Homo sapiens: one gene and its partners. The protein of the gene in region 6 interacts with the protein of the main gene of each other region in a pairwise test. Each region holds a gene or a part of one and is shown on either strand. Other genes may lie near its edges. The genes, in order: TXNDC11, HIP1, FAM114A1, FAM114A2, VRTN, RAB2B and GARIN4.

Region 1 (2,638 bases), on a different chromosome or scaffold from region 6:
TCCCTGGTGCCAGGGACGTACCTGGGAGTTTGAATCAGGCCCATTTGAGCGTGGCAGCCGTGTTGGGTGAAGGTCCGGGGCTCGGTGAGGCACTGGGGGGGTTTTCGGGAGGAAAATGAAAATGCTTCTAGAATGAGTGAACCACATCATAGCTCTCACTGTTTTTTCAATAGCTACTTTTTTTAGCAGACACCAGAGCCACACTCAAATGGCTAAGTAGGTTATGACCTCTCTGGATTATTTTTGAATGCCCAACTGTTGCATTCAAGTTTTCTGACTAATAAGAAATTAAGCATTCATCCTTCGTATCACTGCAGAAGCAACAGTGGGGGCACAGGGAGGGAACTCTTGACACTGAGCCACTAAAATATGGACTAATTTTTTGGACAAATCTTCAAACGGACTGTGCTACTGTATTTGTCTCAAAGCTACCAAGTTTGTGCAATAAGTGGAAGGGATGTCATCCTTCTTCAATAAATGCTGAATGACATTCAAGCTGATTTTCTAGACCACTGAGAAAATCTTTATTTACAATAAATTTCAATAAAATTTGCATAAATATATTCCCAATGTACAATTTTCACCTCTGATTTCTTCATATCATTTAAAAAGTTAGTCTGTCCTGTTCTCCTTATTCCTTTCAGACACCAGTGTGGCGCTGACATTGGCAGGTGGAGGGGAGCTGCCAGGGAGCTGGGGGGTGGCTGAGGGCTCAGGCTGCTTGGGGTGGACCTCTCTCTGGGCCGCCAGGCTTTCAGCTCCATCCCTGCCCTCCAGTTTCCTCTCCATGGTCGCCACCAGGATCTTGAGCCACGTGTTCTCGGTAAGGAGGTTTTCTGAGGCATCGGCCAGCTCCTGCAGCTTGCGGGCCAGCTCCTGCAGCTCACGTGTCTTCTGCTCATAGAGGGCCTGCAGCTGCTCACTGTGTGCGTGGAGCAGGCTGTGCTGCTCTTCCAGGGCCCGCTGCTGCTGCCGCAGCCGGTGCTCATCTCTGCGGGCACTGGAGAGCTGGGACTCCACCTGCACTTGTGCTCGCTGGAGGCTGCTTATTTCTGCTCTCAGTTTCTGGATCTCTCTCTCCAAGTGGGAGATGTGCCCCCGCTGTAAGACTGCCTCGCTCTGAAGACACTCCTTGGTAGGAGAGTTAGCCACATTCTGGGGGCTGGAAGCAGGGTCTGAGTGATGCAAAATGAACCTCAACAGGTTTGGAAGGGTGATGGGGACGTCTTCGGGGTATTTCACACTTAGGTCCTTTCTGGAGAGAGAGGGAAAGGAAGCAAAGACAGGAGTCACACCAACACAATGAGTCCAAAAGCAGGCTGTACCTGAGGCCAGGCCATCTACTTCTCACCAAGAAAAGACGTTCCGTGGATTTTACTTACTGAAAGTAAGGAAAATGTTGCCTGGGCAAGAAATTCTCTACAAAGCTGAGGCTGTCCCATATGCTCGTTCTGTAATTAAGATGGCTTATCTGTTCCTGAAGCCAGAGCTCAGCTTCACCCACACCCTCCAAGAAAGACAAGAGCTCCTAGGCCCAGGCCTAAAGCCAGTGATGCAGGGCCCCAGGAGTGTGTAGGCATGGGGCCTCTGTGTGCTCGGAGATGCCCAGCGGCTGTGTCAGGAAGAGCGTCCAGGGGAGGCAGGAGTGTCCCACCTATGTCCCTCTTGTGCCCACTGACAGTGCCCGGAGAAAAAGGAAGAACTTGAAAGATACCCAGTCTGTTTCTTCAGCAAGCATTTATTACACATTCTCTAAGGCAGGGGTTCTCAACTGGGGGTGACTGTACCCCCATTCCCCAGGTACATCTGGCTCACACCTGGCAACCTGATAACTGGCAAACAGCCCAACCAAAGGACTATGAATTCAGGCTGCCCAGCCCTGAGAGCACAGAATAAGGAAGGAAGGTGACATAGAAAGGGGTTTTCCCTACAGCTTTGTTCCAGGTCCTGATCTAGAGATCTAGAAAATTCCTCTTCAGAACTTGTCATTTAATCGTCTGATGATGTTTCTCTCACATATCTATTTACCTGTGCCTGTACAGCCTGGCTGCAATTGATCAAAACTACCAGCTTTATGCACTTAGGTATGAGGTGGGCCGGCAGCCGAGTTTGTCTCCCTCAGGTGTTAACAGAATGGAAGTCAACAGCAGGGACTCCAGAGCCTGGCTGCCCAGGGCCACTGGACCCGGCCGTAAATTGTTTTATAATTTTGGGGTAAACATTCAACCATCCCCTCCTTTAAAGCTTAGTTTTCTTAACATATAAGCTTTCTTCAAGTGGGGCCCAGCCATTCAAATGACAAAGCTGGGTGTGGTGCTGTGTGCCTGTAATCCCAGTGCTTTGGGAGGCTGAGGTGGGAGGATCGCTTGAGGCCAGGAGTTTGAGACCAGCCTGGACAATATAGTAAGGCCTCATCTGTATAAAAAGTAAGATAAAAAAATTAGCCAGGCAAGGTGGCACACACCTGTAGATCCAGCTACTTAGGAGCCTGAGGTGGGAGGATCACTTGAGTCCAGGAGTTCAAGACTGCAGTGAGCCGTAATTGCACCACTGCACTCCAGCCTGGGCAACAGAGTCAGACCTTGTCTCAAAAACAGAAAACCAAAAAACCCCACAACAACTGAAAACACATCGTGGC
Region 2 (3,500 bases), on a different chromosome or scaffold from region 6:
GCCATGTTGGCCAGGCTGTTCTTGAACTCCCGACCTCAAGTGATCTGCCCGCCTCAGCCTCCCAAAGTGCTGGAGTTACAGGCATGAGCCACTGCGCCCGGCCCAACAGAGACTTTTAAAGGCCCCCTGCTCCCCTGGTCCATGAACAGCCCCTCATGCCCCGGTACTCACAGTCGGCAGGCTCAGGTGGGGCTCTGAGGCAGGTGGTGGCACCATGAGCAATGGCGTCGCTGGTCAAGTGGGCCAGCAGGGTTATGGAATGGAGAAGTCCACTGATGTCTGCCAGGATTGGAAAGAGAAGTTTCTCAGGTCTGGTTGATGGTGACACTTTCATACCCTCTCCTCCCGTTTTATGAGTTGCCTACATGCCTTTCTTGTATGAGTTGCCTACATGCCTTTCTTGATGCAGAGGGACCTGTCACTATCCCCGCATTCAGGTGCTTCTGAACCCTGTCTGGCCATCACTAGCCGACAGAGACTGTCCTTGGCCATTCTTACCTTCTGGGCAGGCCAGATACTGGCTCCAGCTTTTCTCCAGTTGCTCGATGCAGCTGGAAATGGATGTGACCGTGGAGAGGAGGTGATCTGTGAGAGGGAACACAGGGCAAGGTCAGAGCAAGTTCTCATAGCTGGCTTCATCCTCGTTAATTAAGCACTGAATGGAGGAGCTTACCTAGTGGGTAAGCTTCCTGCCTAGACGTGAAGTTCATGAGTAATCACCTCTTGATTCAGACCATAGTTTTTTCCTTAGAGAAACAGAATTGTCTGCTCCTGGTGGGTGTTTTATCAGTGTGACCCACTGTCTAAAGCAGTAGCTATCACACCTGGGGGCTTTAGAAAATACTACTGCTGGGCCTGGCGTGGTGTCTCATGCCTGTAATTCCAGCACTTTGAGAGGCCAAGGTGGGAGTTCAGAAGTTTGGGACCATCCTGGGCAATAGAGTGAGACCTCGTCTCTACCAAAAATTAAAAAATTAGCCAAGGCCAGGCATGGTGGCTCATGCCTGTAATCCCAGCACTTTGGGAGGCCAAGGTGGGTGGATAGCCTGAGCCCAGGTCTTCAAGACCAGTCTGAGCAACAAACCGAAACCAAAAATTAGCTGGGCGTGGTGTTGCGTGCCTGTAGTCCCAGCTACTTGGGAGAATGAGTGGGGAGGATTGTGTGAGCCCAGGAAGCGGAGGTTGCAGTGAGCCACGGCACTGCACTCTAGCCTGAGCAACAGAGTAAGACCCTATCTCAAAAAGCGGGGGGGCGGGGGGGGGGAAGAAAATACTAAAATACTAGTGTATAGGCACTAATGCACAGAGTTTCCACATGTAACTGATCTAGGATGGGGCCTGGGCGCCCCTAAGGTAATGCTGACATGCTGCTGGGCTGAGAGCCCCTGAGCTAAGTCTCACATGAGATTCAACATCAACAGAGTCTCAGGCTGTAAGGACCTGGCCCCTGCCAGCTGGGCAATTGCAAGTGTACCTGCAGACCCAGCGCAGCTGATGAGAGGAGGTTCTTCAAGCTGGTTCAGGGCGTCTTGTATCACCTGCTCCGCAGCCTTCCTGGACCCCACCAGAAGCATTTTTCGTTGGTCTTTGGCAAGCTGGCACATAGATTCCTAAAAATGGTCCAGGGAGGTGAGAGTCTGCCCTAGACTCCATAATGAACCTGAGCAGGATGACCTGGCTGGGGCTCTTAGCATCTTAGCTCAAGTCATGGCCAATGAGGTCCAAGCCAGTAAGCCTGAGACAGAGAAAGGCGCTTTAACTGTGTGCACAGGATGTGCGGCTGCCCACGATGTGCGGCTGCCCACAGAGGCTGTGGGGATGGATCACTGCGCCCGCTTCTCATGGCTGGGAGGAGATGCCAAACTTCTCTTCTCATACAAAAAAGACAGCAGTTTGCTTTCCCTCATGGACTCTGCAGGCAATGCAGGGCCTGCTGGCATTACACCTACAGAATGTCTGCACAATCAGGCCAAGGCCCCAAACCCCTTCTCAGCAGCCCCGGGGTCCTCCCAGCCTCCGTGCATGCGCAGAGGCCCTCGGTGGGAATTCACAGGTGCTCGCTCGTGTCCATGTCCGTGACTTGCCTCTGTGCTGGCCAGTTTGAGCTGAGTGTCCTGCAGTTCTTTCCGAAGAGCAGATAATTCCTCCTCCCTATGAGCTGCGCCACTCACCAGGCTGTCCCGCTCCTTCTCTAGCTCGGCGAACTCGGCTGCCCAGTTTGCTTCTGACTGCAAAGGTGACCACAAGGAAAGAGGGAGACGCTGGTTGAGTTAAACAGTCCCTACTTCCCAGAGGTCCAACCCACCACCGGGTTGCAAGGACTGGGAAGGTGATGGCTCTTTAACCTGCCACTCTGATTCCCTCCCGGGGACACACTGATTGCAGTGGGGGCTGACTTGGCCAGGCCAAGGATGGTGGATGACAGCAACGCCAAAGCCAGGGGTGGGGCAAGAAAGGAGGCCGGGCATGAAGGCTCATGTCTGTAATCCCAGCACTTTAGGAGGCTGAGGTGGGAGGATCACTTGAGCCCTGGAGTTCGAGACCAGCCTGGGCAACATAGTGAAACCCCGTCTCTACCAAAGAAAATACAAAAACTAGCCAGGTGTAGGGGTGTGTGCCTGTAGTCCCAGTTACTCGGGGGGCTAAGTGGGGAGGATCACCTGAGCCCAGGGAGGTGGAGGCTGCAGTGAGCTGCGATCGCACCACTGCATTCCAACCTGAGTGACAGAAGAAGACTCTATCTCCAAAAAAAAAAAGGAGGTATTTACCTGGGCAGAAGTTTCCAGGCTGCCTTGCAGAACCTGAAGCTCCCGTTGGCTTGTGGCAAGTTCCTGCTTCAAGCTCTCTAGAACTTCCAGCTGTTCTTGAGTCTGAAAGAGAAGAAAAACAGAGGGACTCTGATCTGGGTGACAGTGACAAAGAATATAAAAATGTAAAAACGTCCCAAGCGATCAACAAGAGATCTGTAAACTCTACTGTATGTAAGTTACACCCCCCCAAAAAAGTGCAGGGTGTGGGAGGAGGAGGCAAGACCCCAGAGTGTACTGAAAATGTGGAATGTCAAGGAAGGATTTTTTATTATTTATTTATTTATTTATTTATTTATTTATTTTTGAGACGGAGTCTCGCTGTTGTTGCCCAGGCTGGAGTGCAGTGGTGCAGTCTCAGCTCACTGCAACCTCCACCTCCAAGGTTCAAGAGATTCTTGTGCCTCAGCCTCCCAAGCAGCTGGGACTACGGGCACACGCCATCACACCTGGCTAACTTTTGTATTTTTAGTAGAGATGGGGTTTCACCATATTGGCCAGGCTGGTCTCGAACTCCTGACTTGGTGATCCACACCCCCCTCAGCCTCCCAAAGTCCTGGGATTACTGCCGTCTCAAAAAACAAACAAACAAAACAAACAAACAAAAAAAAACGCTCATCCCTCTCTCTCTGCCACCCATGTGTTTTCCTTTCCTCAAACTCTCCACCAGCCTCATCCTTGGAAAGCCTTTGT
Region 3 (3,500 bases), on a different chromosome or scaffold from region 6:
TTTAGTAGAAACGGGGTTTTTCCATGTTGGTCAGGCTGGTCTCGAACTCCCGACCTCAGGTGATCCACCCACCTTGGCCTCCCGAAGTGCTGGGATTACAGGCGTGAGCCACCGCGCCCGGCCAGGGCAAACTTTTTTTTAACCAATACTCTATGTAACCTTGTGGGTCCCCAACCCTGCATTATTCCTTGTACCAGTCCATGGCCTGTTAGGAACCAAGCTGCACAGCAGTGGGTGAGTGGCAGGTGAGTGAGCACAGCTTCCTCTGTATTTACAGCTGCTCCCCATCGCTCGCATTACCACCTGAACTCCGCCTCCTATCAGATCAGTGGTGGCATTAGATTCTCATAGGAGCATGAACCCTATTGTGAACTGCACGTGTGAGGGATCTAGGCTGTGCACTCCTTATGAGAATCTAATGCCTGATGATCTGTCTCCCATCATCCCCAGGTGGGAGCATCTAGTTGCAGGGAAACAAGCTCAGGGCTCCCACTGATTCTACCTTGTGGTGAGTTGTATAATTATTTCATTATAAATTACAACGTAATAATAATAGAAATAAAGTGCACAATAGTAATGTGCTTGAATCATCCCAAAAGCATCTCCCCCGCACCCCTTTCTGCTGATCTGTGGGAAAATTGTCTTCCACAAAACTAGTTCCTGGTGCCAAAAAGGTTGGGGACTGCTGGAATAATGAATGGCCCCCAAGATAACCACATCCCAATTCCTGGAACCTGTGAGTGTTACCTTACATAACAAAAGGGACCTTGCAGATGTGAGTAAGATAAGGATCTTGAGATGAGGGGATTATTTTAGATCATCTGAGTTGGCCTTAAATGTAATCACAAGTGTCCTTATCATATGGAGGCAGAGGGAGATTTGATTACAAAGAGGAAAAGGTGATGTGATGACAGAAGCAGAGGCTGGAGTGACGCACTTCAAAGATAAAGGAAGGGGCCCAAAGCCAAGGAATATGGGTGGCCACCAGAAGCTGAAAAGGGAAAAGAAACCACTCTCCCCTCAAAGACTCTAGAAGGAATCAGGCTGCCAGCAACTTGACTTTAGCCCATGGACACTGATTTCAGACTTCTGACCTCCAGAACTCCAAGAGAATAAGTCTGTGTTGGCAAAAGCCGTGAAGTTAGTTGTAATTTGTCACAGCACTGATAGGAAGCTAACAGAAACCTACAGGGCTATCTTTAAACTTTCCTGGAGCTCTTACTTGGCATGAAAGACTACGCCTATGGGAACTAAGAGTAATACCTGTATCTTTAAAATTATTGACTCTGGCTTTATTAATTATATTTGTAGCAATAATGAGAATAAGCATAGGAAGGCAGGGTGCAATGGCTCACACCTGTAATCCCAGCACTTTGGTAGGCTGAGGTGGGTGAATCACATGAGGCCAGGAGTTCAAGACCAGCCAAGGCCAACATGGTGAAACCCTGTCTCTACTAAAAATACAAAAATTAGCTGGGCATGGTGGCATGCACCTGTAGTCCCAGCTACTTAGGAGGCTGAGGCACAATAATTGCTTGAACCTGGGGGGTGGAGGTTGCAGTGAGCTGAGATCGTGTCACTGCACTCCAGCCTGGGCGACAAAGCGAGACCGTCTCAAAAAAAAAAAAAAAAAAAAGAAAAAAGAATAAGTCTAGAAAATACCTGAGCACTTATCAAAAAAAATACTTGCCATTTAGCTTTGTAACATCTTTGTCAGAAATTCACAGTGAGAAAGAGACCTATACACACACAGTATTCCTTGTTGGGGACCAGCTGATGAAGGTCTAGACCATGGTTTAGTCAAGGATAAACTTAAAGGGTAAGAAGTGAGGTAGAAACCAAATAAGGAATGTAGCCATTAAAGCAGAAAACTCTTTTAAAGCTTACAAATTATTGATATCATGTAGAACAGCACTATTCAATGGAACTTTCGGTGGTGATAAAAATGTTCTGTCTCAACAAACTAAGCATTGAAGGAACATATCTCAAAGTAATAAGAGCCTTTTATGACAAACCCACAGCTAACATCATACCGAAGGGGCAAAAACTGGAAGCATTCCCCTTAGGAACCAGAACAAGACGAGGATACCCACTCTTACTACTTCTATTCAACACAATAGTGGAAGTCCTAGCCAGAGCAATCAGACAAGAGAACGAAATAAAATAGGAAGAGAGGAAGACAAACTATCTTTGCAGATGATATGATTCTACACCTAGAAAATCCCATAGTCTCTGCCCAAAGGCTCCTAGATCTGATAAACAACTTCAGCAAAGTTTCAAGATACAAAATCAATGTACAAAAATCAGTAGCATTTCTATACACCAATAATGTCCAAGCTGACGGTGAAATCAAGAATGCAATTCCATTCACAATAGCCACAAAAAGAACAAAATACGTAGGAATACAGCTAATCAGGGAGATGAAAGAGCTCCACAATGAGAATTACAAAACAATGCTCAAAGAAATCAGAGATGACACAAATGGAAAAATTTTCCATGCTCATGGATAGGAAGAATCATTATTGTTAAAATGGCCATACTACCCAAAGCAATGTACAGATTCAATGCTATTCTTATCAAACTACCAATGATGTTTTTCATAGAATTAGAAAAAAATATTCTAAAATTCATGTGGAACCAAAAAAGGGCCCAAATAGACAAAGCATTCCTAAGCAAAAAGAACAAAGCTGGAGACATCACACTACCCAACTTCAAACTATACTACAAGGTTATAGTAACCAAAACACCATGGTACTGGCACAAAAATAAAACACATAAGCCAACAGAACAGAATAGAGAACTCTGAAATAAAGCCACACACCTAAACCATCTGATCTTTGACAAAGCCAACAATGACAAACAATGGGGAACGGACTCCCTATTCAATAAATTGTGCTGGGATAACTGGCCAGCCATATGCAGAAGATTGAAACTGTTCCCCTTCCTTATACCATATACAAAAATAAACTCAAGATGGACTAAAGACTTAAATGTAAAACCCAAAACTATAAAAACTCTAGAAGAAAACCTAGGAACATAGGAAACACTATCCTGGATATCGGCCCTGGCAAAGATTTCATGACAAAGACTCCAAAAGCAATTGCAGCAAAAACAAAAATTGACAAGTGGGAGCTAATTAAACAAAAGAGCTTCTACACAGCAAAAGAAACTACCAACAGAATAAATAGACAACTTACATAATGGCAGAAAATATTTGCAACTATGCATGTGACAAAGGTCTAATATCCAGAATCTGTAAGGAACTTAAATCAACAAGCAAAAAACAAAACAAAAACCATTAAAAAATGGGCAAATGACATAAATAGGTACTTCTCAAAAGAAAACATATAGGTGGCCAACAAGCATATGAAAAAATGCACACCACCACTAATCATTAGAGAAATGCAAATAAAAACCATAATGAGACACCATCTCACACATAGATTTTCCCAATAACTCAGAGCTGTCATTTACCACGCTTTCACCCTCTCAAGAATATA
Region 4 (3,500 bases), on a different chromosome or scaffold from region 6:
GCACAAATGCCAAAGCAGAAAAAAAACTCATTATAATTTTTAAAAAATTCCTAAGTAGACAACATCTTAGTATTATGATGCAGAGTTCTGACTCATAGACTCCCTGAAAGGGTTCTGGGAATTCAAGGGTCTACAGACCACACTTTGTTCATCACTGATTTAACCTACTACATGGGTGATTGGCCCTATGTCTTAATGAAACCTGAGAGAATTTTTCCATTCACTTTTAATGTTTATAACTGATTATTTCATGAAGAAAAGGCAAAACTGTATTCATTAGATTCCACTTTTTTAAAAAAAAAAGGTCAGTTAGTGTATATCTTAGAAATATTTCCAGCTAAAATGTCAATAAAACAACCCTTAGAACTTAATATTCAGTTGCCTGGCAATTATACTTTACGTCAGCCATCTCATTTCCTGACCCATCTCATTTCCTGATAATTTTGCAAATATACATAGTATCTACATTTACATTTTCTGAGAAATGAAGATATTAAAATATGGTATAAGAGTTTTCAAAATAAAAAAAGACAAACTATCACCCACATTTTAGATAACTGCCATCCTGCATGCTTCAATTCAAGACAGAATCAGGGGTTACAAGAGTCAGAGAGGCAGAGGTAAAGTACCTAGGAATATGAAAGCTCATATGAATGACCAGTCAAACTGAGGCAAGAATCTGATGAGAACAGCTTTCTAACTGCAAAAATAGGCAAAGATGTGAGTTGCAAGATTAGACCTTGAGAAGCCACAAAGGGTTTGGTTGGAAGGAGGCAGGGAGACATGGGCATAAGGCCAACTGCCCCCATCAATGCCTAGTCAGGTGCAAGGCTGCAGAGAATTTTACACAGAGAATTTGCATAAAAATTTTCACCAAAAAAGTAAAATCAAGCCAGTGTAATAAGAGTAAATAATTTATTTCAAGGGCAATGCACTGCATACAAACACACTGCATCCTCTCCACTCAGATACTAAATTTTCATATTACCTTTTTTCTCTTCTTCCTCTTCTTCACAAAATTCTGCTAGAGAAAATGTTTCTTTGAGTTGCTCTAATTCAACTTTTAGAGTCTCTAATTCTTCTCCACTCAGAGAATTAAGGATAGATTTCACCTGAATGGATACAAGAACAAAATGTTGTAGGAGTATGAAAGAAAAGAAAAACATTCACAAATAGGGAAGAGACTATAAAAAGATCATATTGAAGTCAAAATTATGAGCTCATCAGCCAGCACAAGTTATTCCTTAAGAACCTTAACACAAGAGGCTGGTTATGACAGAAAGGTAGGGAGACTCTGTGCTTCTAAAAGTAATACCAGCCAGAAATTCCTGGAAATTATCAGTGTTTAGCAACAGCTTAGAAATAACAAAAAAATTAGATAATCTTAAATCAATTAAAAGCTAACAGGTAACTGTACACAAATTGGCAGCTCAAGTCAACAGGTTTCTTGGCAGCCTAGGCCAAAGAAACTAAAAAAAAAAAAAAAAGACCAAAACGAAGGAAAAATAACACATGTCCTATTAAGACCTCTTTGTTAACCTTTTTTGTTTAAATTTAAAGAAATAATACTTGACTAATTCTGCTTTTAGCAATTAGTTCAATCAAACATTAGTTTTTAAATTTATTTTGTGGTAGTATTTCGAAGGCATCTCAAGCCTCTAACAAAACATACACTTCATCTTCCAAATGTACAAAGAGAAAGGAAACCATGCAGCATTCTTTTACTTGAAGACTTTTTCCAGTTGAGATTTTGGCTTGGAATTACCTTTATTTCACTTTCTTGGGAAAGCATCTCCAGAGCTTCTAGATGTGAAAGGCCTTGAAATTCATCAAAGAGTAGCCCATAATGAGTTTTCTTGTCTGTTTCCACGGTAACCTCATTGGAGGTCCGTATCTCTTCTTTCTCCTTCGCCTCTCGTAAAACCTAAAAAGAGATGGAGGCATTACACTGTAGCAAACAATGAGAGCTCAAGGGTGAGTTCTGAGAATTGAAGGAAGCAAAGCTTAGACAGGTTAGAGTACAGAGGATTGCCCTTTCATTCTTGGCACTGCTATTCAAATCTGGTGGGCTCAGGAGCTGCAGAAAGAAAAACGATCACACATAATTTGAGACGGAGTTTCACTCTGTCACCCAGGCTGGAGTGCAGTGGCACGATCTCTGCTCACTGCAACCTCTGCCTCTCGGGTTTAAGCTATTCTCGTGTTTCAGCCTCCCAAGTAGCTGGGATTATAGGCATACGCCACCACGTCCAGCTAATTTTGGTATTTTTAGAAGAGACGGGGTTTCATCATGTTGGTCAGGTTGATCTTGTACTCCTGACCTCAACTGATTCACCTACCTCGGCCTCCCAAAGTGCTGGTATTACAGCCGTGAGCCACCGTGCCTGACCACATAATTTGATCCTAGACAGTGCAAATCACACCCAAGGAACCAGGTGTTTCTCTGAAAGTGATTTAAACATTAAAACAAACAAACAAACAAACAAAAAACCCTGACAGGGTTTAGCATTTTGCACTGCACTGATGGGAGGCTCCTGCAGAAAGAGGAGGAGAAAAAGAGCTGGGTATTTTTGTAAGCAGTAGAGCTCTCACCCATCCCTGATCCCCCCAAAAAAACGCCTGAATAAACATTATTGAAAATGCTTGAAAAGAAAACACTAACAAGGTTCCAAGTAAACAAAGGCAAAAATACAGATCAAAACAGAAACAGGAAGTAAACAGGTAAGGATAATCAGTACCTGAGATAGTGTAGCATTTCGGTTCATCAGACCCTTGGTTCTTTTAAATCCAGGATCCCCTTCTGCTATCACATCCATTGTCTTTTTTCCAATGAATTCTAAGGCATCCAAACCCCCACTTATAACACTCTTTCCCTAGAAAATACATGCAACCTCATTACAACAATATTAAGAAAACATATTTTTATGCATTTTTATTATGTATTTATTATATAAAAATAGTGGCTAACAATACCAAGCACTGGCAAGAATGTAAAGCAAATGAAACAATCACACACTGCTTGTGGGAACGTAAATAGGTATAACCACATTAGAAAACTGTTTGTCAATATCTACTCCAGCTGCATGACCCAGAAATTCCACTCATGGTTACATCCTAACAGAAATAAGTACAGAGGTTCATCAGAAGACATGCACAAAAATGTTCATAACAGCTCTGCTTGTAATAGCTACAAACTGAAAACTACCCCAATGCTCACCAACTGTGGAATGAATAAATAAAACGTGACAAAGCTTCACAATGAAATACAACAAAGAAAATCAAATCTACCACACAAACTGCAGCATAGGTAAATTATACAAATATAATGTTGCATGAAAGAAGTTAGATACTATATATGATTCCACTTATGTAAAGCTGAAATGCAGGCAAAATTAACCTATGATGGTGGAAGTCAGGATTATGGTTATCTTGGTGCAGGAGAGGGGGAGAGCAGAAGACACAGAAAACTGGGAGAGGACACAAGATGGTGGGGAGATCTG
Region 5 (3,500 bases), about 53 Mb from region 6:
GGACCGGCACCTGAAGTTTGGACAGGCCTCTGGGCCAACCCCGAGCAAGACTCTTCCAGACCCAAAAGGCAGAAGGTGACAGGCTGGGGTAGCGGAGGCGGAAGCGGCAGAAAGGGAGATGCCCACTCAGCACCTGCCTGCGGGCAGCCCTGCGCAGACGCCTCTGCCAACGGGACAGGGGCATCCTTAGTGGCAGGAGCTCCCCGGGGGCGGGAGGGTCCTCACCTGTGGCATTCCCTGCCCCCTCTTCCGCCTCACTCTTCCAAGGAATTACAGCCCCTTCCCCAACAGATGCTAGCTGGGGAGTCCCAGCAGCAGAGAGGGCTGGTGCCGGCTTGAAGCTGGGGTTCCTCCGGAGGGCCTTTCGCCGCCAATTATAATAAGTGGACCGTGAGATGCCAGGGAACCTGCGTTTGAAGCAGCGATAGGGTACCAGTGTGTTCAGGGAGATGCAATGCTCCAGGTACAACTTGGCCCGCTGCATTAAGACCATTCCAGGGCTTGACACCGCCAGTGCGGAGCACTCCAGCTCCTCCTCAGCCACCTGCTCCTCCGGCAGCTTCTCTAGCTCCTCCATGCCCAGCACCTCCCTGGGGGGCAAGGCCGGGCAGGTGCCAGAGCCCAGCAGCTCATGCTTCCAGGCATAGTAGGTTGAGCGGGAGATCTCCGGGAACCGCTGGAGGAACTGCTGAAGTGGCACGACGCCCCCCCGGTGGAAGCTGTCCTGCAGGAAGTGCTTGGCGGAGAAGCGGGCAGCAACCTTCTGCCGGTGCTCCTGGGACTGCCGCCGCCAGCGGTAGAAGGTGCTTTTGGTGACGCTGTAGCGCTCACAGAGGTGAGAGTAGCTGAGGCCAGGTTCACGGTTGAGCAGCTCCAGGGTCTTGGCCGGCGATGAGAGTGGGGCCAGGGCTGGAAGAGCTGGGGCCACGCCAGGGGCACCTTCAGCCTCCACCTCTTCCAGCCCCACCACAGGGGCAAAGTACTGGTGGCGGAAGAAGTGGCTGGTGAGGGGCTGGCCAGCCCACATGATGTGCAGCGTGGAGGGCACGTGGTCGCAGCGGCGGGGCCGGATGACACGGTTGAAGTAGGGCCGGATCTTGAGGTTGCGCATGGGGTAGATGGAGTAGATGTTCCGCTGGAGGACAGAGGCGAGAGCATACAAGTGCCACACGTTGGAGAAGCTGCTGGGGAAACAGGAGGCCTTGACGTCGGCATCGAAGATGGCCTCCAGCGTGGCGGGGGGCAAGCTGGTCATCTCAGGGGACTCCTCAGAGCATAGGGAGTAGCGCACGGCCTGCAGCATCACTTTGGAGTCGATCATGCCCTGGAGGTAGTAGTGTCTGTGCAGCAGCATCTCTACCACGGTGCGGGCCCGCAGCTCCAGGCTGAGGCCTGCGTCACCCCACAGCAGCATGCTGGCCGCCTCGAACAGCAGGCTGCCCTCCCCCTTGCACACCAGCGGCAGCATGTTCCGTGGAGCATCTTCTGGATACAGGCTCAGGGCCACCGAGTCCACTTCCAGCACCTGGAGGCCAGGGCCTCCCTCCCGGCAGGTGGGGAGAGTGAAGGAAGACAGGACCTGCTTGGCCTCCAAGGAAGCACCTATGAGACCCTCCAGGCCTTCGCACTCCACTGCTTCCTGCAGCTCCTGCAGCACCTTCTGCACCAGCTGGTTCCGAGAAGTCATCCTGCCAGGGCAAAAGATAAAGGGGCAGTAGTCAGGTCGAAGTGCCCAGATGATGACTAGCAAAGGTGCCCTGTCCACTCCTGCACTTTCTCCCAAAAGGTAATGTCTATCTGCTCCCGTCCTCCCACAACAGACGGGATTGGTTCATCACTGAATGGTACTGAGGAAAAGTGTGGTCTCTAGAACCTGGCTTTGAATCCTGGCTCTGACATAAGCTTGGTCACCTTGGATCACTTAACCTCTCTATGCTTCTGTTCATTTTCTATAAAATGGGAATGGTGTGTTAAAATCTGCTTTATAGGCCAGGCACGGTGGCTTACACCTGTAATCCTAGCACTTTGGGAGGCCAAGGCAGATGAATCACTTGAGGGCAGGAGTTCGAGACCAGCCTGGCCAACATGGTGAAACCCCATCTCTACTAAAAATACAAAAATTTGCCAGGCATAGTGGCAAGAGCCTGTAATCCCAGCTACTCTGGAGGCTAGGGCAGAAGAATCACTTAAACCCAGGAGGCAGAGGTTGCAGTGAGCTGAGTTAGAGCCACTGCACTCCAGCCTGGGCAACAAAGTGAGACTGTCTCCAAAAGGGAAAAAAAAATTAATAAAATATGCTTGAGTTGTTCTGGGCATAAATGAGACAATAAAGAGATGTTGGCTGGGCGTGGTGGCTCATGCCTGTAATCTTAGCACTTTGGGAGGCTGAGGTGGGTGGACTGCTTGAGTCCAGGAGTTCAAGACCAGCCTGAGCAACATGGCAAAACCCCATCTCTACAAAAAATACAAAAATTAGCTGGGCACAGTGGCATGTGCCTATAGTCCCGGCTACTTGGGAGGCTGAGGCAGGAGGATCATCTGAGCCTGGGAATCCGAGGCTGCAGTGAGCAATGCTCGCACCACTGCACTCCAGCCAGGGTGACAGGAATGAGACTCTGTCTCAGAAAAAAAAAAAAAGAGAGAGGCCAGGTGCAGTGGCTCATGCACTTTGGGAGGCTGAGGCAGGCAGATCACTTAAGGTCAGGAGTTTGAGGCCAGCCTGGCCAACATAGTGAAACCCCATTGCTACTAAAAATACAAAAAAAAAAGTTAGCCAGGCATGGTGGAATGCACCTGTAATCTCAGCTACTCAGGAGGCTGAGGCACGAGAATCACTTGAACTTGGGAGGTGGAGGCCGCACTGAGTAGAGATCATGCCACTGTGCTCAAGCATGGGTGACAGACCGAGACTCTGTCTCAAATAAATAAATAAATGATGCTATTTTTTTTTTAAAGAAAAGAAAGAAAACCGTTATCCTTAAGTACATGTCGTTTTCAATACTGGGTGTAATCAAATGGGGCATACTTATAACACGCTTGCTGCAACCCGAGGTATGATGAATGTCTCCATTGGATGATTGTTCTGCTTTTCTGATAAATTAGCTCCCTTTAGCATGATATACAATTTTTACTTGAAAGAAAGTCTAATAGACACTGGTCATTCAGATTTGGATATATTTGGCAGATATTTTCTCAAAAATGAATGAAGTGAGACTGTAATTTCAAGGGAAACAACTATTTGCTGCCCATAAAAACTTATCAGCTTCCATCTGAAAATCTCAATTTTTCTGATGAGATCAGTGGTGACAATTTTTTTTTTTTTTTTTTTTGAGACTGAGTCTCGTTCTGTCACCCAGGCTGGAGTGCAGGGGCGCAATCTCAACTGGCTGCAACCTCTACCTCCCGGGTTCAAGAGATTTGCCTGCCTCAGCCACCCGAGTAGCTGGGATTACAGGCGCATGCCACCATGCCCAGCTAATTTTTGTAATTTTAGTAGAGAC
Region 6 (3,500 bases):
GCAGTGGCACTATCTCAGCTCACTGCAACCTCCGCCTCCCGAGTTCAAGCAATTCTCCTGCCTCAAGCTCCCAAATAGCTGGGACTAGAGGTGCGTGCCACCACGCCTGGCTACTTTTTGTATTTTTTCAGTACAGACGGGGTTTCACCATATTGGCCAGGCTGGTCTTGAACTCCTGACTTTCTAATCTACCCACCTCGGCCTCCCAAAGTGCTAGGATTACGGGCTTGAGCCACCACGCCTGGCATATTTTTTCTTTTTTTTATATAGGGTCTCACTCCTGTTGCTGAGGCAGGAGTGCAGTGGTACAATTACAGCTTCATTGCAGCCTCGACCTCACAGGCCCAAGTGATCCTCCCACCTCATTTAAAAATTTTTTTGTATAAACAAGGTCTCACTATGTTGCCCAGGCTGGTCTTGAACTTATGGACTCAAGCAATCCTTCCAGAGCTGGGATTACAGGCATACGCCACTGCGCCTGGCCTTTTTATTTTCAAACAGTTACTAAGCGGTTATAAAAAATACTCATGTTGTTTGGGTATAACTATTTAACAAAACTATTAGGTATTTCTTTTGGCCTATGGGTGTCAAAAAAAATTTACTGATAATAACCAGTGTTGTTAAGGATGTAGAGAAACTGGAATCCTTGTACATTGCTGGAAAGAATGTAAAATGAGACAGCTGCTATGGAAAATGGTATGGTGGTTCTTCAAAAAATAAAAGAATTACCATATGATCCAGCAATCCCACTTCTGGGCATATACCCAAAAGAATTCAGAGCTGGGACTTGAACAGATCCATGTTCATAGCAGCATTATTCACAATAGTCAAAGGATGGCAGCAACCCAAGTGTCCATGGACAGATGGATAAACAAAATATTGTGGTATATGCATACAATGAATATTACTCATCTTTAAAAAGGAAGGAAATTCTGACACATGCTACAATATGGATAAACCTCGAAGACATTATGCTAAGTGAAATAAGCCAGTCACAAAAGCACAAATATTACATGAGTCTACTTGTATGAGGTACCAGTAGTAGTCAAATTCATAAAGTAGAATGATGGCTGTCAGGGGCTGAGGGATGAGGGGGATGGGGGAGGGAAGATGGAGAGTTAGTGTTGAATGTGTATAGAGTTTGAGAAGATGAAAAAGTTCTGGAGATGGATGTTGGTGATGGCTGTGGAACAATGGATATTCTTAATGCTACAGGACTGTATGCTTAAAAATAGTTAAAATGGTAAATTTTGTGTCATATATATTTTATCACAACAAAATTTTTTTTTTTTACTGAAACACTAAGACCACTATAAACTGAGAAAGTTTGGGGATCAATGTGCATAGAGTACCTAGATGACTCCTGTTAACTATTATTCACATGGATACAATTTTACCTCTTATTCCCAATGAGCATGATAACCATGTTGGAACTAGAGTGCTGCCGGGCATCCTCTAACCATGAGGTCAGGTGGTTGAAGGTTTCACGCCTACAGCAGAAAAATTTAGAATGTGGGTCAGAGACACATTTCAAAAGGCCAAAACAACTCCAAGCGTATACGAAAAGAGGGGAAGCCATACGTGTAAAGAAAAATATTAGAGAGGCCATTCCTAGTTAACATCCTTAACAGAATCAGTAGATAGAAAAAAAAAAAAAGCTTTAGAGGATTTAGGGAAGAATCTCCCTCCCATGCACCAGATCTGGCTCACCTTGTAATGTCGTACACCAGCAGTGCTCCAGCTGCTCCCCTGTAGTAGGAACGGGTGATAGAACGGAAGGATTCTTGCCCAGCCTTTCCCACCAACATGGCAACAAAAAATCCCAACAAAACCAGGTTATTTCCACAGAACCGACTTGATCACATGCCACCCTAATACAAAGGACTTAACTAAAAAAAGAATTTCTATTACGAAAAGAGAATTAGGGAAAGAAAACATGCCTGCCCGAGAAGAAACCCAAGTGGGAAATCAATATTTTTCTATGGGAGTGCATTGATATTTTGGGCAGTCACTTACTCTTCCTGAGAGACTGTCCATCAGATTAGTGGATGTTTAGCATCCTAGATCCCAGTCACTAAATACCTGTGGCACCCCAGTCAGCACGATAAAGACGATGAAGACATTTGCATACATTTCCCAATATCCTCATAAAAGAACAACTGGAAATAGGACTGGAAACGGAGTGTATGTCATTTTTTTCAATCCCAAATATGATATTGAACACACCATATTAATCTTTCTGTTCCCATTTCTTTATCTGTAAAAAGGAAAGTTATCTTAGAATGCCAAAACCTGGTCTAATAGAAATTTCATTCCAATGAATCAATATAAAAATTAGATTAAAAGCACTTCAACTGATTATCTTCTAACTGACCTTTAGTGTTCCACTGATAATGCAAGACTACCTAGATGTCCCTTGCTGGGCTTCTGTCATGGGAAATAGGAATAACAAACAGAGAAAGAAGCCCAGGGCCCAGCATAGAGTTTTCCTAGAAAAATCCAAATGTTCACACTCTAATCTCATTTCCAGTTGGACAAAGATATTAAGTTCTATTTAAAACTGAGTAATTTATTAATGCCCCCATAATACTGGGTACTTTTGCTTTCTTGATGGACTAGTTCTTTTTTTTTCCTTTAGGGAAAACAAAAACATTTTTTAAATAATATGAATACCCTGTACATTGAATCTATCCTATTAAGAAAGTTTTCACATTCTTGAAATAATTTATCCTTACATCCCTACATAACAGGAGGTAAGACTATAATTTATAGGTTACAAATGGGAGAATCATGATTAAGGATGTGGGAAAATAAATGGCTTTCTCATAGTATAATACCAGTAACAGTGGTAACACTAATTATAACACTGCAATAGTACTATAAACTACTTTTTGGCATATAAAATGTGCTACGAACTTTAAGAGACAATTACATATATTATTTCATTTACTTCTCTTAGCAACCCTGGGGCCGATATTATTATTCCCTTTTTTTTTTTCTTTTTTTTTTTGAGAGGGAGTCTCGCTCTGTTGCCCGGGCTGGAGTGCAGTGGCGCAATCTTGGCTCACTGCAACCTCCGCCTCCCAGGTTCAAGCAATTCTCCTTGCTTCAGCCTCCCAATTAGCTGGGATTACAGGCGCCCACCACCATGCCTGGCTAATTTTTTTGTATTTTTGGTAGAGATGGGTTTTCACTATGTTGGCTAGGCTGGTCTTGAACTCCTGACCTCATGACCCACCCGCCTCGGCCTCCCAAAGTGCTGGGATTACAGGCATGAGCCACCGTGCCTGGCTTATTATTTCCTTTTAAAAATGGGGAAAATGAGGCTCACACAAGTTTAATAAACGGCCCCAAATCATAAAGCTTATTAAGTGCTAGAGCCATAATTTAAACTTAGGATCTTAGTACTTCCTAGGACAAAAACTTGTCCTCTTAGCCACTATATCATATAACCTAAACTGGGGTTTGTAGGTGAGAAGAGAATTCCAGTATACTAACTC
Region 7 (3,951 bases), on a different chromosome or scaffold from region 6:
TTTAGGCAGTTTCCAGTATTATTTTGCTACAAACATTCTCATGGCTGTCTCCTGCAACATGTGTGTTTCTTGGGAGTATACTTAGGGGTGGAATTGCTAAGTCTAGACAATGCTCCTCCCTGTTCTGGTTGCCAACACATGCTGCTGCTCCCTTACTCCCTCCTATGAATAGTGCAAGGGGGTGAGAGTTCTGTTCTTGCTTCGTCTTTGGATTTTCCAGGGTTGGGAGGGGGCAAGTTTATAAAAAGGATGGGGAGATGGTGGAGGTAGAGCTTCAAGCTCCCAGCCTGACTTTCAGCCATAGTCCTGGCGAACCAAAGCCAGGAAGGGGTTGAGGAAAGCTGGAGCACTCATCTGGGCTCTGCTGAGCATGGGTGTGAGGTGGGGCTACCCTTGACTGGATCCTGGGGTCTCAGGCTGCAGCACAGTTGACATCACAGAATCCACTGTGAGGTCACTGCTGGGCTGTGGGACACAAAAATTCAGCCAGCAAGCCACTTTCAGATGTATGATTCTTTATTTAAACGGCAGTAAAGAACGCTGGAATAGGCTTTCCAGGGACACTCCCATGAGCTCTGGGCTCCTTTGCAGCTTCCAGCTCTGGGTCTTATTTAATGGGCTTCAAAGGTCACTGTCTCCATGATGTCCGGTGTCATAGAACCAACCGTCTCCAGCCCCTGGCCACCCTCTGCTGTCTCGGCGATGGCCACGTTGGTGCTCCTCTCCGCCATCTTAGCCATGACGTTCACATCTCTGCCATGTGGTGTGCCCACTACTTTTGTAGTAAGGTTGGCTCTGACGTTCCTCAGGAAAGAGCTGACCCTGCCAAGTCCCTTGCTGGAACCGGAACTGGTGGTCCATAAGCTCCTCCCAGATTTGTGAGAGGTCCTGGACTCCTTTGAGATGGGCGTGTGGCTGACACCTTTATGCGAGTCCCTGTGCCTGCTGCTCCCCGGGTTGCCACAGCCTTTCTCCTTTTTGTCATCTCTATTGGCTCTGTGGCTGAATGAGGACCTGCTGGAGGACTTTTGGGCAATCTTGTCTCCCCTTGTTTTGTGGCGGCTTTCACCTGTCCTGCGGCGATGGGAACTCCTTCCGAGAGCCCTGTCCTTTTCCCTTCTTTCCCTCCCCTCCTTGCAGCCTTCAGCGCTGGCCTGGGTTCGCTCCCTTCCATGCTGTCCACTCAGGCTGCTCTTGCTCTGCCGGGTGGAGACGGGAGGTCCCGCTGCTGCATCCATGTCTGCTTCTGCAGCTGTCCTGCTGGTCAGTACTACTCCTGCAATGGCCAGGCTCACACTGCCCTCTCGGGAAAGGCTCATGGATGCGCTGGAAACATGCTCTGAGGACTTGCCTGCAGCCCCTGCCACAGCCACCTTCGTGCTGTTTGGAGCCATGCTGGCAGTGCCTGCAAGGGCCATGTTGCCTTTGTTTCCTCCTGCACCGATGGTGGCCGCCCCAGCTATGGCTGCGCTCACCTGTCCAGGGGCAGAATTGGCTGCTGCCACACTCAAGGCACCTGCTACGGTGCCTGTTGCTGCCCCTGCAGCTGCCCCTGCTGCTGCTGCCTCTTTAATCCCCCCTGTTGCTGGCTCCTCAGCAAGTTCTGTAGATGTTTTGGGGATGGATGCATTGAGCACATTAGTGGGTTTGTTAAAGTCATTTTGGAGTCCCTCCCCTCCAGCATAAGCAGCAGAGGTGGCCCCACACACCTCAGAGACCATGTGGAGGCTTTGGATGCTGACCTGGTCCTGATCCCCCTTTCCTTGAAGGTTCACGGCTCCCAGGCTCCTCCTGTCTTCCTGAAACACAGGCATCCACATCATGTCTTCAGCTGGAATGCCACAGGTACTGCTGTTACTCTCCATGGGTGGCCGCAAGAGGTAAATTAGTTTTTCCCAATAGGCAAAGAGGTCATCCCGTGTGTCAAGAGCGGGACACAATTGCAGATAGCAAGATCTGCCAGTGGCGAACTTCAGGCGCAGCTGTTGTTTCTCATGGTCTTGAACAGAGATCCGTACAAACCTCAGGGGCAGAAGCCTGGTGAGCTCTAAGTTCTTTGCTGCCTTGCGTTTTTTTCTCTTGGTGGCCTGGCCATGTCCAGCATACTCTTCGCAGCCGGTGGCCGGTCGTGCCAGTAGCATGACATCTGGGAGTGGGAGGATGGGGCTGGTACGTGCAATGCCCATGGTCACCATACGGACACGGTTGTGCACATCAATCACTTCTCCCCTTTTGGTGATCTGGATAAAGTCGCTCTCAAATATCGGTGCATACTTGAATATATCGTACTCCCCCTTGTACAGTTGTCGCTGCAGTTTCCCCATGGTGGTGTTGAACATGCTCATGCTGGAGCCACTCTGGGCCGTATAATACGGCAGCAGAAAATCAGCATTCATGGTTGTCTTTCAGCACAACGGCAGCACTGGTGAGGCAGGTCTCTGGGTCTTCCTTGGCCTCGGTGGCAGATGAGGGACCAGTGGTGCTCCTGGGTCACAAAGATGTCTCTGCAGCTGGTCTCTCAATCCCACCCCACCCCACAGGCCCCCACTGTTGCCTCAGAGCCTCCCAGAGGCCGGGGTGGGGGTGGGAGCACGGATGATTGCTGTGGGGGGTGCTGTAGGGTGCCTGGACTCCAGACTCTTCCAAGACGTAGAGATGCAGGGTGGGCTCCAGAGAGGTTTTCTTCTGGACCTAACCCCCTGACCTCCACCTCTGATTTTTTTAATTACAGTTTGTAGTCTCTCTCCCTGAGAGAGACTACAAACTGTAGTCCTAGTGACAGGAAGTGACGACCCTCTCTGCCTAAACCCCCTGTGCAGCCATATTTATCTTCTGCTTCCCTTTGTGACCTGTTGCTGTCACATACCCCTTTGTTCTCATCCCCCAGGCCAGGGCCACAATGCCCTCACTAATACTCCATTGCCCCCATAGAGGACAGCCCCACCGTGCCAGGTACTCAAGTGGGTGCCAAAATAAAAATTTTTCAAATGAGAAAATGTGTGGTTGCTTCCCCTTCCTCACCCCAAATTCAAAAGATTCAGCAACTAGGCAGAGTCTACAGGAACGCAAGATGATGGGATAAATTTGAACCATTTGAGTACACGGTTTAAATTTTTTTTTAACCTAGAATTCGCAGTCTTGGTTCTTAGCCCACTCTTCCATAAAATCTCAGTTCATGCTGACAATGGAAATCTTTAGTAATAACCTCAACCTTTAATAATAACATGAGAGATTGCTTCTTCTAGGCGCCATACTATGTATCAAACTCCATTCCAGTTTGATACTATTGCAACGCTTCTCATCTTACAGGTAAAAAAAACCTGAAGTTGTGAAACATACCTGCATTTGTAGAACTCGTAGGCAGTGGAGGTATTATTTGAATACAGGTCTTGCTGCTTTTAAAATCTTCCTTCTGAACCACTACAGAACTTACAAAAAAAGCTTGGGCAAGCCAAATAAGTTGCATAATTAATTCTGTGTGTGTGTGTGTGTGTGTGTGTGTGTATGCATGCATGTTATGGAGAATCCAGGACAACCACTTCAGAAAGGGGCTGGGCTGAGTGGGGGATTAAATTATCCAAGGGGCCACCTCTATTTCTCCTCCATCATGTTTATACCAACATCCTGTGTCAGGGAGCCCAAATATTTTCTCAAGGCCCCCAGTGTTTGCCCCGTGCCTCTTCTTACCCCCTACCCTGTGAAATGCCGGGAGAAGAGGGTAGGATGGAAAGTGTGAGCTTACATTCCAGGAGCCTATCAAAGGCCCTCCTCTACTAACCTCTCTACTATGCAGAAGTACTTTGGAAGCCATTTACATCCATGGGGAACAGGTGCTACTATACCTCCTGCCTTGCCATGCCCACAGAGCGAGCCCAGGAATAAGTAATTTCCAAGCTGTTACCTGGAAGTCCTGAAAAGGAGCACCTGCTTCCAACTCTCTTTTCTCCCAGC

What was found.
Region 1: the proteins of RAB2B (region 6) and TXNDC11 interact in binary tests that used the Homo sapiens proteins (3 or more experiments, as listed by UniProt).
Region 2: the proteins of RAB2B (region 6) and HIP1 interact in binary tests that used the Homo sapiens proteins (3 or more experiments, as listed by UniProt).
Region 3: the proteins of RAB2B (region 6) and FAM114A1 interact in binary tests that used the Homo sapiens proteins (3 or more experiments, as listed by UniProt).
Region 4: the proteins of RAB2B (region 6) and FAM114A2 interact in binary tests that used the Homo sapiens proteins (3 or more experiments, as listed by UniProt).
Region 5: the proteins of RAB2B (region 6) and VRTN interact in binary tests that used the Homo sapiens proteins (3 or more experiments, as listed by UniProt).
Region 7: the proteins of RAB2B (region 6) and GARIN4 interact in binary tests that used the Homo sapiens proteins (3 or more experiments, as listed by UniProt).

Annotation. Positions count from the first base shown.
Region 1 is NC_000016.10:11,678,583-11,681,220, forward strand, and holds the end of TXNDC11 (thioredoxin domain-containing protein 11), read right to left. Parts: intron 1,256-2,638; coding exon 613-1,255; 3' UTR 501-612; downstream 1-500. UniProt on the Homo sapiens protein: May act as a redox regulator involved in DUOX proteins folding. The interaction with DUOX1 and DUOX2 suggest that it belongs to a multiprotein complex constituting the thyroid H(2)O(2) generating system.
Region 2 is NC_000007.14:75,553,942-75,557,441, forward strand, and holds part of HIP1 (huntingtin-interacting protein 1), read right to left. Parts: intron 2,871-3,500; coding exon 2,769-2,870; intron 2,229-2,768; coding exon 2,085-2,228; intron 1,611-2,084; coding exon 1,475-1,610; intron 586-1,474; coding exon 499-585; intron 280-498; coding exon 172-279; intron 1-171. UniProt on the Homo sapiens protein: Plays a role in clathrin-mediated endocytosis and trafficking. Involved in regulating AMPA receptor trafficking in the central nervous system in an NMDA-dependent manner. Regulates presynaptic nerve terminal activity.
Region 3 is NC_000004.12:38,874,306-38,877,805, reverse strand, and holds part of FAM114A1 (protein NOXP20), read right to left. Parts: intron 1-3,500. UniProt on the Homo sapiens protein: May play a role in neuronal cell development.
Region 4 is NC_000005.10:154,025,411-154,028,910, forward strand, and holds part of FAM114A2 (protein FAM114A2), read right to left. Parts: intron 2,874-3,500; coding exon 2,739-2,873; intron 1,925-2,738; coding exon 1,766-1,924; intron 1,113-1,765; coding exon 989-1,112; intron 1-988.
Region 5 is NC_000014.9:74,354,971-74,358,470, reverse strand, and holds part of VRTN (vertnin), read right to left. Parts: intron 1,689-3,500; 5' UTR 1,688-1,688; coding exon 1-1,687. UniProt on the Homo sapiens protein: Acts as a transcription factor that regulates development of thoracic vertebrae.
Region 6 is NC_000014.9:21,466,960-21,470,459, forward strand, and holds part of RAB2B (ras-related protein Rab-2B), read right to left. Parts: intron 2,258-3,500; exon of another isoform or gene 2,250-2,257; coding exon of another isoform or gene 2,227-2,249; intron 2,221-2,226; exon of another isoform or gene 2,134-2,220; coding exon of another isoform or gene 2,083-2,133; intron 1,794-2,082; coding exon 1,711-1,793; intron 1,491-1,710; coding exon 1,398-1,490; intron 1-1,397. UniProt on the Homo sapiens protein: The small GTPases Rab are key regulators of intracellular membrane trafficking, from the formation of transport vesicles to their fusion with membranes. Rabs cycle between active GTP-bound and inactive GDP-bound states.
Region 7 is NC_000001.11:212,623,323-212,627,273, reverse strand, and holds GARIN4 (Golgi-associated RAB2 interactor protein 4), read right to left. Parts: upstream 2,801-3,951; 5' UTR 2,397-2,800; coding exon 612-2,396; 3' UTR 499-611; downstream 1-498. UniProt on the Homo sapiens protein: RAB2B effector protein required for the compacted Golgi morphology, probably through interaction with small GTPase RAB2B.